Regions from separate parts of the Homo sapiens genome. Here region 1 is linked to region 2. The links come from fine-mapping of genetic effects on gene expression. Tissue or cell type: whole blood. Region 2 holds a variant in brackets; the other region holds the start of a gene. All regions are shown on one strand. Distances are from middle to middle.

What was found. PIP is the estimated chance that this variant, and not a neighbour inherited with it, causes the effect.
Region 1: it holds the start of ZNF48, and the variant in region 2 is fine-mapped to the expression of ZNF48 in whole blood (TOPMed, PIP 0.95).

Annotation. Positions count from the first base shown.
Region 1 is chr16:30,390,910-30,399,012 of GRCh38, forward strand. It overlaps ZNF48 (zinc finger protein 48), which reads left to right and starts at 4,511. Exons shown (of 3, transcript NM_001214909.2): 1 at 4,511-4,669; 2 at 4,871-4,964; 3 at 6,421-8,103. The coding sequence starts at 4,886. RefSeq lists enhancers at 2,431-2,931, 4,933-5,529, 7,864-8,103 and silencers at 4,423-4,612, 4,703-4,962.
Region 2 is chr16:30,320,158-30,328,260 of GRCh38, forward strand. It overlaps the pseudogene SMG1P5. Among named protein-coding and RNA genes, the nearest start is that of CD2BP2, 31 kb to the right of the region's middle. RefSeq lists a silencer at 4,893-4,942. The variant T/C (reference allele first, on the strand shown) is at 3,417.

The DNA.
Region 1 (8,103 bases), 71 kb after region 2:
CACCGCGCCTGGCCAGAGACAGGGTTTCAATGTGTTAGCCAGGATGGTCTCGATCTCCTGACCTCGTGATCTGCCCACCTTGACCTCCCAAAGTGCTGGGATTAGAGGCGTGAGCCACTGCGCCCGGCCGAATAAACTTACATTCTATCTTCATCTTTCACTGCTTTCCTAATATGTAAACTCACGGCACATTAAAACGGAACTATTCTCTATTTTCCTCTCTGAAGATAGGTCGTAATCCATAGTCATCTTTGGATCTCAAGCTTCTAGCACACATTAGGTTTTCTTTTATTTTTATTTTTTGAGACGGAGTCTCACTCTGTCGCCCAGGCTGGAGTGCAGTGATCTCTGCTCACTGAAACCTCTGCCTCCCGGGTTCAAATGATTCTCCTGCCTCAGCCTCCTGAGTAGCTGGGATTACAGGTGAGCACCACCACCTCCAGCTAATTTTTTTATTTTTAGTAGAGACAGGTTTTCACCATGTTGGTCAGGCTGGTCTCCAACCCCTGACCTCATGATCCGCCCGCCTCAGCCTACCAAAGTGCTGGGATTACAGGCGTGAGCCACTGCTCCTGGCAGTCTTTTTCTTTTCTTTTTTTTTTTTTAAACAGAGTTTTGTTCTGTTGCCCAGAACGGAATGCAGTGGTGTGATCTCAGCTCACTGCAACCTCCGGCTCGCGAGTTCAAGCGATTCTCCTGCCTCCGCCTCCCGAGTAGCTGGGATTACAGGCGCGTACCACCACATCTGGCTAATTTTTGTATTTTTTAGTAGAGATGGGGTTTCACCATGTTGGCCAAACTGGTCTCGAACTCCTGACCTCAGGTGATTCACCTGCCTCAGCCTCCCAAAGTGTGGGGATTATAGGCGTGAGCCACTGATTCCAGCCTAAGGTTTTCTTTCTCTTTCCTTTTCTTTCTCCTTTTTTTTTGGCGGGGGGGTGGGGGTGGGATAGGGTCTTGCTCTGTCACCCAGGCTGGAGTGCAGTGGCATGATCTCAGCTCCCTGCAACTTTCACCTCCCGCGCCCAAGAGATCCTCTCACCTCAGCCTCCCAAGTAGCTGGGACTACAGGTGTGCACCACCACTCCCAGCTAACTTTTTTGTATCTTTTTATTTATTTTATTTTTTCCTGAGGCGGCGTATCGCTCTGTCGCCCAGGCTGGAGCGCAGTGGCGCGATCTCGGCTAACTGGAAGCTCCGCCTCCCAGGTTCACGCCATTCTCCTGCTTCAGCCTCCTGAGTATCTGGGACTACAGGCGCCTGCCACCACGCCCATCTAATTTTTTTGTATTTTTAGTAGAGACGGGGTTTCACTGTGTTAGCCAGGATGGTCTCAATCTTCTGACCTCGTGATCCACCCACATCGGCATCCCAAAGTGCTGGGATTACAGGAGTGAGCCACCGCCCCCGGCCCTGTATCTTTTTAGAGATGGGTTTTCACCATGTTGGCCAGGCTGGTCTCAAACTGCTGGACTCAAGAGACCTGCCCACCTCAGCCTCCCGAGGTGTTGGGATTACAGGCGTGAGCCACCATGCCTGGCCCATATTAGGTTTTCAATTAGTATGTGGCCCACTGTTTATTCAGCCCCCACTGCCTGGAGTTGTTCATTCAGCCCCCACTCCAGGCAGAGTCTGGACTTTGCCGAAATCAAACCAATTAGAGTAATAGCTGATACTTTTGCTAAGTGCTTTACACATATTCATCCTCAACCATCAAAGTTAGCTGTTATCATCCCTATTTTACAGTTTGGGAAACAGAAGCTTAAGTAACTTCCCTAAAGTCAAGTAGCAATTAAGTGACAAAGGCCAAGAACCACACTCTGCATAAATGGCTTTAAAGACAGTATCTGCACCCACTGAACACTACAGAAGGTATCTCTGTGCGCTACACTCCTATAAAATTTTGTCCATACAGTCAATATAGAACCTGTCACACCATCTGACAACTCCATATCCTATTGGGCCAAGAGCTCCCTGAAGAGTTTCTTTATTTCCAGGGCCTAGGACAGTGTTTAGGTATTAGCTAGTGATCAATAGGTATGTGTTGATTTCTGGTCCCTGTTTCTGTCAGTGCTAACATCCATGCATGCCAGGCACACAGAGATTCATTACTACAAACTAGAACCCTTCCTGTTCTCCCACACTATCGTGAATTGGTCCATATAACTCTTTTTTTTTTTTCTTGAGATGAAGTCTCGCTCTTGTCCCCCAGGCTGGAGTGCAATGGCGCGATCTCAGCTCACTGCAACCTCCGCCTCTGGGGTTCAAGTGATTCTCCTGCCTCAGCCTCCCAAGTAGCTGGGATTACAGGCGCCTGCCACCACGCCCTGCTAATTTTTTTATTTTTAGTAGAGATGGGGTTTCACCATGTTGGCCAGGCTGGTCTGGAACTCCTGACCTCAAGTGAGCTCCTGCCTCTGGCTCCCAAAGGGCTGGGATTACAGGTGTGAGGCACCACACCCGGCCTTTTAAATTTTATTTATTTATTTTTTTGAGACGCAGTCTGACTCTGTCACCCAGGCTGGAATGCAGTGGCGTGATCTCGGCTCTTTCCAACCTCCGCCTCTCAGGTTCAAGTGATACTCCTGCCTCAGCCTCCTGAGTAGCTGGGATTACAGGCCCGTGCCACCACGCCCTGCTAAGTTTTGTATTTTTAGTAGAGACAGGGTTTCACCATGTTGGCCAGATTGGTCTCAAACTCCTGACCTCATGTAATTCACCTGCCTCGGCCTCCCAAAGTGTTGGGATTACAGGTGTGAGCCACTGCACCTGGCCGGGTCCATATAACTACCTTAACAGTCTCTCTTTCTTTCTCTTTTTTTTTTAGATGGGGTCTCGCTCTATTACCCAGGCTGAAGGGCAGTGTCACAAATATGGTTTACTGCAGCCTCAACCTCCTGGGCTCAGGTGATCCTCCTGCCTCAGTCTCCAGTGTAGCCAGGACCACAGATATGTGCTACCATGCGCTGCTAAATTTTTGTTTTTTTTTTGTAGAGACAAGGTCCACTTTTTTGCCTAGGCTGGTTTCGAACTAGTGGCCTCAAGTGATCCTCCCACCTTGGCCTCCCAAAGTGCTGGGATTACAGGCATGAGCCACTGGGCCCAGCCCATTCTCTCTCTCTTTTTTTTTTTTTTTAAAGAGACAGGGTCTCGCTCTGTTGCCCAGCATGGAGTACAGTGGCACGATCCACGATCATGGCTCACTGCATCCTTGAATGCCCAGGTTCAGGGAATCCTCTCAGCTGGGATTACAGGGGCAGGCCACCAGGCCCAGCTAAATTCTCTAATTTCAGTGATTTGTGTACTTGCTCCTTTAGACTGGTAGCTCTCCAAGGACAAATCTTGCAGGTGTTTCAACTTTTTATCCCCAACTCTTGGCTTAGCACTAAGATGCTAATAAATGTGAATTAATGCATAAACCACAGTTACCCCCACCATCATTGGCAGAGGGGCTGAAGACACCTCCAGACACTCTCTCCACCCCAAAACCAAGCCCGCCCAGAGAGCGGATACTGGGATCTTGCTCCTAGGGCCTGGGAACCTGGAAACACAGCTCCAGCCAGGGGCCCACCAGGATGGGAAACAGGGCTTGTTCTTCAGCCTCTCCCTGAGCCTGGCCTCTATAGGGCTGCCGACCTGTCCGGAGTCTTTCTGGCCGCCTCTTTCTTTGTGTCTCTTTCTCTTTGTCTCTGCCCGTTTCGCTCACTATCGTCTTTTGTTCCTCTGCTTCTGGGCCTGTTACTCTCCAGGCTCCCAGCCTCTTACTGCTCCTCGGACTCTGCGTCAATGACTTTATCTCTTATCCGTTTCTACGTCTCTGTCTCTAGCGGCTAATCTTTGGCTCCCCTTATTTTTGGTCAGCCGCTGTCCCTCGGTCTCTCTCTGCCTTTGCGTCCTCTGTGACTCAGGGCTCTGATGTGAGTCTCTGGCTCAGGGTCTCTGTTCCGGGCCCCAGGTCTGATTCCATCTCTCCAGCAGCATTTACCCGGTGTCTGCCTCTAGCCTCTGCTCCTGCCTCGGTCTCCCCAGCCCAGCCCCCATTCCATACCCACCCCCACCCCGGGCCCTCGGCCTCTCGGACCAGCCCCGCTTTGTTTCCCACGTCTCGGCGCCCCGCCCCGCCCCGTCTGGGGTCTCCGCCGCCCTTTGTCTGCCTTGGTCTCTCCCCCACCCCTTTCCCCGGGTCCGTCTTTGGATCCCTCTTTCTTTGTCTCTCCCAGGTCGGAGTGGCTGGCGCTGTCGGCCGGCCGGGGAGGTCGGCGCGGGTGGCTGGAGACACACAGCCACAATTACGAAGAGCCTCGGGCCTCACCACCCAGCTGCAGCCCAGGAGGCACACGGTTAATACCACCGAGTTCGGGCCGCCGGCCTCGGCTTAGAGTAGCCCCTGGGCCGCACGCTGCCGCCCGCCGGCCACAGAGCTACCGCCGACGCGGGCGACCCCCACAGGCCCGCAGCTCCTCCAAGGTCCTAGAGCGGCTCCGTGCGGCCCCGCGCTTCCGCTTCCCGTCCCCGCCCCCGGTGGCCGCCCCCGGGACGCCTGGGTCCGAGCCCGCTCCCGGCTTGGCGCGGAGCCTGCATCCCGGAGCCGCTGGCGGCTCGGGCGCCTGCACCCCGCTGAGGAGCTCCGGAGGGCGCCGGGGTGGCGGAGCCGGAGGCGGCCGGCAAGGTGAGAGCGGCGGCTGCGCGCTGGGAGGAGCAGCAGGTGCAGGGGCGGCCGGCGGCGCGGGCAGGGGGCACCGGGAGCCGCGCCCGTACCTGGGACCCGACGCCGCCCGGTGCCCGCGCTGGCCGGCAGAGGGCAGCGGCAGGGCGCCGCGGGCCACACATGGCTGCGTGACCGCGGGATGCTGTCTGTCCCCTTGCTCAGGGCGGCGTGCCGGCGATGGAGCGCGCGGTAGAGCCTTGGGGCCCAGATCTCCACCGCCCGGAGGAGAGGGAGCCACAGAGAGGCGCCCGCACAGGTGAGGGCCTCGGCCGTGCGCCGCCACGGACAGGTAACGGCCGGTGGGGACTGCGATGCTTGGCTGTGGCCGGCCGAGATCCTGGAAGATCGGACGTGAGCTGTGCCTCTGGGGAGATAGGGGGAGGGGAGCTTTCGGAGCACCAACTGTGCGCCAGGCCGGGAGGGGCTCTTCACGGCCTCTGTCCCCTCCCTCACGGCCTTCCTCATCCTTACTGCCTCTGCCCTACTTCAGGCTTCATTCTGTTTTATCCTGGCAATTGCAGTAGCCTCCTCTCTGCCCCTTTCTCTCCACTGATGCATTCTCTCGCCAGCTTGATCTAAGTCCAGATATAATCCTGTGTCTCTTCTGGAAAACCTTCCCTAGCGTCCCCCAGTCTCCTAATTAAAAGCCTTAGCTAGTGTCCAATCCAAACCGTGCGTGCTCAGGTTAGTCCCAACATCCTTTGACACCTTATCTTCCATTCCACTCCATTATTTTCTCTTCGCTCTGCCGTAATGCCGGTTCCTATTTCCTTATCTCCTATCTCTCTTGTGACAACATAGTTATTCTAGTTATTCTGCACCCACAATTATAACCATTGATACTTTAATCTTATCTCTCCTACCACCCTAAGCTTCTTGAGGAAGGGATGTGTGCCTGGGTCCTCTCAGGTACACACAGGATAACTGATGTAATAAATTACCGAATGGGCTAATATAATAAGATACAATAATAATAGCAAATACCAAGTTTTCCAAATAGACAATATAATGTAGGGATTAACACGGGCTTGAGTGTCAGAGAGACCTTAGTTAGACATCACGCTTTGCTACTTTTTTTTTTTTTTTTTTTTTTTGGCGACAGGGTCTCACTGTGTCACCCAGGCTAGAGTGGCACAATCACAGCTCACTGCAGCCTCCACCTCCTGGGCTCAAGTGATCCTCCTACCTCAGCCTCCCAGTAGCTGGGACTACAGGTGTGCACCACCATGCCCAGCTAATTTTTGTATTTTTTTTTGTAGAGTTAGGGTCTCACCATGTTGCCCAGGCTGGTTTCTAACTCCTGGGCTTAAGTGATCCACCCACCTCGGCCTCCCAAAGTGCTAGGATTACAGGTGTGAGCCACCCTGCTGGCCTGGCTTTGCTACTTTCTAACCTTTATAACCTCCAGCAAAAGGACTTAAATTCTCTGAGTCTTTCCATGCCTGTAATATGGGGATAGTCATAGTGTTATAGTATTGTTTGCAAGCGTTTAATACTAATGCTGAGTTTGGTGAATGACATACATTAAGGGCACAGTAAAAAGAAGTTTTTATTGAGAGGCACAGATAGTAAGTGCACCAGAGGTTGAGAGGACAGAGAGATTGGGGTTCCTGTGACCACAGATTGTCAAGGGAGTCTTCCTGGAGAGGTTGCTGTCAAAGATAAGTACCGAGCCAAAGGGGAGGGTCTACAACTTCCTTTTCTTTCCTCAGGTCTAGGGAGTGAGAACGTGATTTCTCAGCCGAATGAGTTTGAACATACCCCACAGGAAGATGACTTGGGGTTCAAGGAAGAAGATTTGGCTCCAGATCATGAAGTAGGAAATGCCTCTCTCAAACCTGAAGGCATCCAGAACTGGGATGACTTATGGGTCCAGAGAGAGGGTCTAGGAAAGCCTCAGCCTCGGGACAGAGGCCCCCGGCTCCTGGGTGAACCACGCTGGGGCCAGGCTAGTAGTGATCGGGCCGCTGTGTGTGGTGAGTGTGGCAAAAGCTTCAGGCAGATGTCAGATCTGGTGAAACACCAGCGGACCCACACAGGGGAGAAACCCTACAAGTGTGGGGTCTGTGGCAAGGGCTTTGGGGATAGCTCTGCCCGGATCAAACACCAGCGGACTCATAGTGGGGAGAAGCCCTATAGAGCCCGGCCACCAGCCCAGGGTCCCCCAAAGATTCCTCGGTCCCGGATCCCTGCTGGTGAGCGCCCCACTATCTGTGGTGAATGTGGCAAGAGCTTCCGGCAGAGTTCTGACCTGGTGAAACACCAGCGGACACACACTGGTGAGAAGCCCTACAAGTGTGGCATATGTGGCAAGGGCTTTGGCGACAGTTCCGCCCGCATCAAGCACCAGCGGACACACCGGGGGGAGCAGCCCCCCCGACCAGTGGTGCCCCGACGGCAGCCATCTCGGGCAGCCACGGCAGCTACCCAGGGACCGAAGGCCCAGGACAAGCCATATATCTGCACTGATTGCGGCAAGAGGTTTGTGCTCAGCTGCAGCCTCCTGAGTCACCAGCGTAGTCACTTGGGGCCCAAGCCCTTTGGCTGTGATGTGTGTGGAAAGGAGTTTGCCCGGGGATCCGACCTGGTGAAGCACCTGCGGGTGCACACGGGTGAGAAGCCCTACCTCTGCCCAGAGTGCGGCAAAGGTTTCGCGGACAGCTCCGCCCGAGTCAAACACCTCCGCACCCACAGTGGCGAGAGGCCCCATGCCTGCCCGGAATGCGACCGTACCTTCAGCCTCAGCTCCACCCTTCTTCGCCACCGCCTCACTCACATGGAGCCCCAGGACTTCAGCTTCCCAGGCTATCCCCTACCCGCTCTGATCCCCAGCCCACCCCCACCTCCTCTGGGCACCAGCCCCCCGCTGACACCTCGAAGTCCCTCACACTCGGGTGAGCCTTTTGGCCTGCCTGGCTTGGAGCCAGAGCCTGGGGGCCCACAGGCTGGGGAGCCACCCCCACCACTGGCGGGCGACAAGCCCCACAAGTGCCCTGAGTGTGGCAAGGGCTTCCGCCGAAGCTCTGACCTGGTGAAACACCATCGTGTGCACACAGGGGAGAAACCCTACCTCTGTCCTGAATGCGGCAAGGGTTTTGCTGACAGCTCAGCCCGAGTCAAGCACCTCCGCACCCACCGTGGTGAACGGGCCCGGCCACCACCACCATCCACTCTGCTGCGGCCACATAACCCACCTGGCCCAGTACCCATGGCCCCTCGACCCCGAGTTCGGGCCCAGCCTTCTGGACCCAGCCAGCCCCACGTGTGTGGCTTCTGTGGGAAGGAGTTCCCCCGGAGCTCAGATCTGGTCAAACACAGGCGTACACACACGGGGGAGAAGCCATACAAGTGTGCAGAGTGTGGCAAGGGTTTTGGTGACAGTTCTGCCCGCATCA
Region 2 (8,103 bases):
AATACAAGATATGGAGAAAAAATGATGATGCAGAGCTATGCTGAAATTTCTTATCGTTCAACTTGAAATAGGTTTACAGCCTAATGGGACTATACTAGAAAGTGTAGAAAGAGGGCAGGCACGGTGGCTCACACCTGTAATCCCAGCACTTTGGGAGACAGAGGTGAATGGATCACAAGGTCAGGAGTTCAAGACCAGCCTGGCCAACAAGGTGAAACCCCGCCTCTACTAAAAATACAAAAAAAAAATTAGCTGGGTGCGGTGGCACATGCCTGTAATCCCATCTACTCAGGAGGCTGAGGCAGGATAATCGCTTGAACCCGGGTGGCGGAGGTTGCAGTGAGCTGAGATCGCACCATTGCACTCCAGCCTGGGGGACAGAGCGAGACTCCGTCTCAAAAAAAAAAAAAAAAAGGAAAAAAGAAAAAAAGAAAATGTAGAAAGAGAGCCACTCCACTGCAGAGCAATTAATTCTATCTCCACTAATATTTTTCTAAATATTCACTGGAACAGTTTTAAAAATAATTTCCTGAACTTTAACCCTCCCAACGTCTTCAAAAGGCAAAAATTACCCCCTCAGAGGGACACAGCTGGTAGTGCCAATACAGAAGATCTTTGTCTTCCCATTCTTAGTCCATAGCTTTTTTCATGACACCAGCCTCTCCTAAGATAAATATCTGTGAAGGATCAACTTTTTAAAATACACACATTCTAGCTGGGCACGGTGGCTCACATCTGTAATCCCAGAACTTTGGGAGGCTGAGGCGGACGTATCACCTGAGGTCAGGAGTTTGAGACCAGCCTGGTCAACACGGTGAAACCCGTCTCTACTAAAAATACAAAAATTAGCCAGGCGTGGTGGCATGCACCTGTAATCCCAGCTACATGGGAGGCTGAGGCAGGAGAATCGCTTGAACCCGGGAGGTGGAGATTGCAGTGAGCCAAGATGGTGCCAACTGCACTCCAGCCTGGGCAACAGAGCAAGACGCCGTCTCAAAAAAAAAAAAAAAAAATACATTCTTAAAAATAAAGACACTTAGAGAGGAATCTAAAACACACTGGTTCTATTTTTATGCTAAGACAGCAGGTGGATTTTTTTTTTTTTTTGGAAAAAGAAAAGGGAACAAATTTCACATAGGAGAAGAGTTTTTGAAATCTTTGCACAACAGGGTGGCCATAGTAAATAATGATGTATTTATTTGCAAAGAGAAGACACAGATAACAATAGCAATAATAATAATGTATTTCAAACAATTAAGAGTAAATTTCAAATGCCTCACCACAAAATATAAGTAAGCAAAGTAAGGCGATAGTATGTTAATTAGCATGATTTAATCATACTACATTACACACATATATATAAACATTACGTTGTACCCTATGTGTACAATTATGATTTCTGAATTAATATTAGAGTGGGGAGAACAATGATTAATTTTTACTTCTTCAGTAAGATTACAATGAAAATGTAGAGAGCACTAGCATTATAGTAACTATACGATAGGCCACTTTAAATAAAAGGCATCTTTTACAAAATTTTTAGTCAATAAATTGATTACCACATACTTACGACCTATTTGCTATTAAGTGTAATTTATAATTCTAGTATTTTCAAAAAAGGAACATATTAAAATCCTATCAATATTTCAAATAATGACAGAATTAATCATTTTTAATAGAATCCTTACTCAGGTCCTTCAAAAACAATATAAACTATGACTTAAGGTAGATTCCTTTAAATCTGACTAATGAATAAATGTTAAATCTCAAATTTCATAGTCCCAGTGCTGGAAAACCTATATTTTTATTTTTCTTCACGTTTATACAAAGAACGTACAGACAGGCAAGAAATGTAATCAACCTTTTTAGGAAAGAATCCCAGGATTTGCTTTCTTTTCAATTAAATATATATGAATTCTGGGGGATACTGGTGATCATCTCTGGATCTTTTTACTCATCTAATGAGAAAAGAGTCTCATTATACAAAGAGGATAGTCAAAAAGCCTAATGATTTCCTCACATAAGTAGATTTTTCTGTCTGGCAAATCTGAAGAAGTCAACATAGAATCTGTCATTAATGCATTGAATCTGAACTTCCACTATTCAAATCAAATTAGGACCTGGAAATAAAGTGTTAACACTTCAGACAAGAAATTCCAGGGTTTGTATCATCAGGAATATAAACCAGGGACACTCTCAAGAGGCTGAAGAGCAAGAGTCATGCACTGCTTCAGAGAATTAAATACTCCAAGATGAAAGTTAAAATTTCAAACACACATATCACACATACACATCTTTTAACATCAGGTTGAAATGCTAAAGGGAACAGAGTAAAGGTATGTTTTCAATTAATAAATTTAAATGAGAGAAAACTTTAAATTCAAAGAGCTTCAGTAAAAAAAAAAAAAATATTAGCAATGTTATCAAATGTGGACGAAAAGCTAATATATGTCACTATGTAATCCAAGACATATTCATTAGTGGCGCCTTTTTTCTGGGCTATTAATATATTAGATGCCATCCAAAAACAAATATCTAGTAAATATTAAGTTTAACGACTTCTTAAAAACCTGTAGGTTCCCAAAGACATATACATGTATGTGCAGTGAGGCCACTGCTAAGCCTCTAACAATATTCTTGTAGACTACTAAAGTTCTCTATGATGATAAAAAGCGTGATAAAAAAAATCTAGTGTCTCCCCTTAATAAACAAAGAACGAGCATAACTTAGGAAGTTCGGTAACAAAAACAATCTATAATTCTGGTACCAGAAATCCCTCTGAGGCTGGGCGAGGTGGCTTACACCTGTAATCCCAGCACTTTGGGAAGCCAAGGCAGGGGGGATCACCTGAGGTCCGAAGATGAAGAACATCCTGGCTAACAGGGTGAAACCCTGTCTCTACTAAAAATACAAAAAATTAGCCAGGCGAGTGGCACATGCCTGTAATCCCAGCTACTCAGGAGGCCAAGGCAGGAGAATCACTTGAACCCAGGAGGTAGAGGTTGCGTGAGCCTAGATCGTGCCCTTGCACTCCAGCCTGGGCAACAAGAGCAAAACTCCATCTCAAAAAAAAAAAAAAAAAGCAACAAGTCCCTCTGAAAAAAGTTTTAAATAATAAACAAAAAAGTCTATAACAGGTTTTTAAATAACTATAAAGTCCTACACATATTATATGAATGCCAACATAATAATATGAATATGAATATCAACAGGGTATCCAAATCCTTTTTTGAAAAGGTCTGAAAATTAATATGAAAGAAGTAATTCAGTATGTTCAGAAATCTGTTGATTCTAGGCCAGGTATGGTAGCTCACACCTGTTATCCCAGCACTTTGGGATTTACAAAATGGCATTTCCTCCTCACCTAAGGTCAGGAGTTCAAGACCAGCCTGGCCAAGATGGTGAAACCCCATCTC[T/C]ACTAAAAACTACAAAAATTAGCCAGGCGTGGTGGCAGTCGCCTGTAATCCCAGCTACTCAGGAGGCTGAGGTAGGAGAATCACTTGAACCCGGGCGGCAGAGTTTGCAGTGAGCCAAGATCTCACCACTGCACTCCAGCCTGGGTGACAAATAAAATAAAATAAAGAAATCTGTTGATTCTGGAATATTTGCGTTTCATTCCCCAATCAGCAGGCATGCAATTGGCAAGAAGTGTGTTTCCCCAGGCATTCTAATGGGATGCCAGAAGGCTCAACCCAGTGCTTAAATTTTTAGTGATTACATTGCTTAAATAATGTAGACAGATACAATAGACTCAAAATAAATCAATGTGTAAAAAGACTTTAAATATGTGCACAAGGTATTTTTCAAGATGGATAAAACATATGAATCTTAAATTACCATATTCTTTTATTTTTTATTTTTTCTGAGACAGAGGTTTTCCTCTTGCTGCCCAGGCTGGAGTGCAACAGCATCATCTCCACTCACTGCAACCTCCGCCTCCCAAGTTCAAGCAATTCTCCTGCCTCAGCCTCCTGAATAGCTGGGACTACAGGCGTGTGCCACCATGCCCAGCTAATTTTTGTATATTTTTTAGTCGAGATGGGGTTTCACCATGTTGGCCAGGATGGTCTTGATCCCTTGACCTCATGATCCGCCCACCTCGGCCTCCCAAAGTGCTGAGATTACAGGTATGAGCCACTGCGCGTGGCCAAATTACCGTATTCTTTCTTCTGTAGAAAGATCTGGCCACTCCAGTCCATTACGATACTGTCCTTTTGAGCCTGCTCAATCAGTTTGTTTAAGCCCTGCCTCAGGCCAACAAGGCTGCCATAAGAGGAATGCTTTCCCCAAAAAAACATCCTACAAGAACAGTGTTGCAATCTCTGGAGTTAACACTTAATATAAAAACACAAACTTGCAGGATCTCATTTTCATGTATTTACTTGAGGAAAGACACAAATATAGAGTGGATGCTATTTATTGATGCACTTAGTAGGAAAGAAGGGGATAGCAAAAGTAACAATTTTACCAGATCCATGCACATATGCAGGTTGTATTTTACTGGAGATGGCACACATAAAAATTCCAGATAGTGGTAAGGATATGAAAAAAAGTGGCAGGAATGGGTGTGATAGTGAAAAAGTCACTGCATATCTGTACCTTGACTGAGGTCATGGTTACACAGGTGTATACATTTGTCAAAATTTACTGAATTTAAGACCTATACAGGCCGGGCGTGGTGGCTCACGCCTGTAATCCCAGCACTTTGGGAGGCCGAGGCGGATGGGTCACCTGAGGTCAGGAGTTCCAGACCAGCCTGGCCAACATGGTGAAACCCCATCTCTACTAAAAGTGCAAAAACTAGCCAGGCGTGGTGGCAGGCATCTGTAATCACAGCTACTTGGGGCGCTGAGGCAAGAGAATCACTTGAACCCGGGAGGCGGAGGTTGCGGTGAGTCGTGATCGCACCATTGCACTCCAGTCTGGGGGATAAGAGCGAGACTTCATCTCAAAAGAAAAAAAGAAAAAAAGAAAAAACACCACCACCTATACATACATAAATTTTATCTCAAAGAAGCACCACAATAGAATTCAAAAACGAATTCAATTTAAAAAGGAAAAGTACACTCGATTAATACAAGATGGAAAAGAATAACATTATAAAACCAAGTATCTCTGCATGAGCGAACTCCACAAGAATTTAGTAAGTTATACTCTACATTAAAAAAAAAACAAAAAACAAAAACTCAGAATAAGGGAGCATTTCCTATACATATGAAACCACAAAATTTCTGTACTCTTTACTGTTAGGCCTCTATACAAGGGGAAGTATGTTTCATTTTATAGTTCCAAAAATAAAATGGGCTCTGAAAAACTTCAAGATAGTCAAAGACAGGTAACCAAAATGATGACAATGTGAAAAGATTAACAAACAACAGCTCCTCTAAATCATTAAGGGTGGTCCAATGAAAGGAGCCTCAGGGATTTGTTTTAGGCGATTAGGATAAGGAACAAGAGCCAGGTAACAAAGGCAGAAAATCCTAAAGAATTTAACAATTCAATGTTCCCAACAGACACCATGGACCACACTCCATTTTATATGACACTTAAATGACATTCCATACATGTGTCTAACATGAAGATTGAGCAGATAAAAGGTATCACTTTAGTAATCATCCTCAATCAACACCAGATAACAAATGAGGGGCTTTTGCTTATGGAAATTCTCACATATTGAGCTGAACACTTTTACCTTAATTAATTAATTAATTTATTTATTTATTATTATTTTTTTTTTTTTTTTGAGACGGAGTCTCGCTCTGTCGCCCAGGCTGGAGTGCAGTGGCGGGATCTCGGCTCACTGCAAGCTCCGCCTCCCGGGTTCACGCCATTCTCCTGCCTCAGCCTCCCAAGTAGCTGGGACGACAGGCGCCCGCCACTACGCCCGGCTAATTTTTTTGTATTTTTAGTAGAGACGGGGTTTCACCGTTTTAGCCGGGATGGTCTCGATCTCCTGACCTCGTGATCCGCCCGCCTCGGCCTCCCAAAGTGCTGGGATTACAGGCGTGAGCCACCGCGCCCGGCCAATTAATTTATTTTTTGAGACAGAGTTTCGCTCCTGCTGCCCAGGCTGGAGTGCAATGGCTCGATCTCGGCTCACCACAACCTCCGTCTCCCGGATTCACGTGATTCTCCTGCCTCAGCCTCCCAAGTAGCTGGGATTACAGGCATATGCCACCACGCCCGGCTAATTTTTGTATTTTTAGTAGACACGGGGTTTCTCCACGTTGGTCAGGCTGGTCTCTCCCAACCTCAGGTGATCCACCCACCTTGGCCTCCCAAAGTGCTGGGATTACAGGTGTGAGCCACCATACACAGCCTTATCTTAATTTAAATTGTTAAATATAAACATAATACTCAGGTCCTTAGCAGCCCCTTCTCTATATTGTTCCAATTAACTGCCTCCCACTGCGATCTCTCCTGCACGTGTGTGCACGCACTCTAACACACACACTCCTTTTTTTTTTTTTAGACGGAGTCTTGCTCTTGTTGCCCAGGCTGGAGTGCAACGGCGCAATCTCAGCTCACCACAACCTCGGCCTCCGAGGTTCCAGCAATTCTCCTGCCTCAGCCTCCCGAGTAGCTGGGAATACAGGCATGCACCACCACACTCGGCTAATTTTGTATTTTTAGTAGAGACGGGGTTTCTCCATGTTGGTCAGGCTAGTCTCGAACTCCCGACCTCAGGAGATCCACCCACCTCAGCCTCCCAAACTGCTGGGATTACAGGCATGAGCCACCACGGCCAGCCCACACACTTTTTCAAGAAGCAACTAGATTTAATCTTCCTAAATTGTGCCACTTTCCGGCAGGTAAAATTTCAATGATTCCCTAAAGTCACTCCAAATACACTTAAACTGGGCCAGGGTGGTGGCTCACGCCTGTAATCCCAGCACTTTGGGAGGCCGAGATGGGTGGATCACCTGAGGTCATGAGTTCAAGACAAGCCTGACCAACATGGTGAAACCCCGTCTCTAGTAAATACAAAAAATTAGCCAGGTGTGGTGGTGCGTGCCTGTAATCCCTAGAGCTACTTGGGAGGCTGAGGAAGGAGAACTGCTTGAACCCGGGAGGCGGAGGTTGCAGTGAGCCAAAATGGCACCATTGTGCTCCAGCCTGGGCAACAAGAGCAAAAACTCTGTCTCCAAAAACAAACAAACAAACAAACAAACAAAAAAACACCTGAACTATGATTAAAGGTCTACAATAGGGTCCCCAACCCAGTGCTTCAGCTTCACCTCTTATTTGTATTACTCCTCATAAGTACCCAATTCCTCTACACACTGACAATTTGCACCTGGCCTTATCCTAATTTTCTTCTATTTTGGGGGGGATTCTCCCCCAAATTCACAGTGAAAATTGTACAGACCAATTCCATCACCCCATTTCCCTCCTCTAACCCTCCAGGTTTTTGTTTTTGTTTTTGAGACAGTCTCACTCTGTCACCCAAATTGGAGTGCAATGGCATGATCTTGGCTCACTGCAACCTCCACCTCCTGGGTTCAAGCGATTCTCCTGCCTCAGTCTCCCAAGTAGCTGGGATTACAGGCGCCCACCACTGCATCCAGCTAATTTTTGTATTTTTAGTAGAGACGGGGTTTCACCATGTTGGCCTGTAACCCCAGCACTTTGGGAGGTCAAGGCGGGCAGATCACCTGAGGTTAGGAGTTTAAGACCAGACTGGCCAACCTGGCGAAACCCTGTCAATCATGCCACTGCACTCCAGCCTAAGTGACAGAGCAAGACTGTCTCAAAAAAAAAAGAAAGAAAGGAAGGAAGGAAGGTATACTGAGAATTACATCACAAAATCCACATGCTCTCCCCTTTACAAAGCCCTTTACTTTTCTCCCATAATAACTTATAGCCTCCTTGAAGACAGTGGTTTTACAAGTCATAAAAATCCTGGCCATGGCCCAGTGCAGTAGCTTGTGCCTGTAATCCCAGCACTTTGGGAGGCCAAGACAGGCAGATCACTTGAGGTCAGAAGTTCGAGACCAGCCTGGTCGACATGGTGAAACCCCGTCTCTACTAAAAATACAAAAATTACCCAGGAGTAGTGGGCACATGCCTGTAATCCCAGCTACTCGGGAGGCTGAGGCAGGA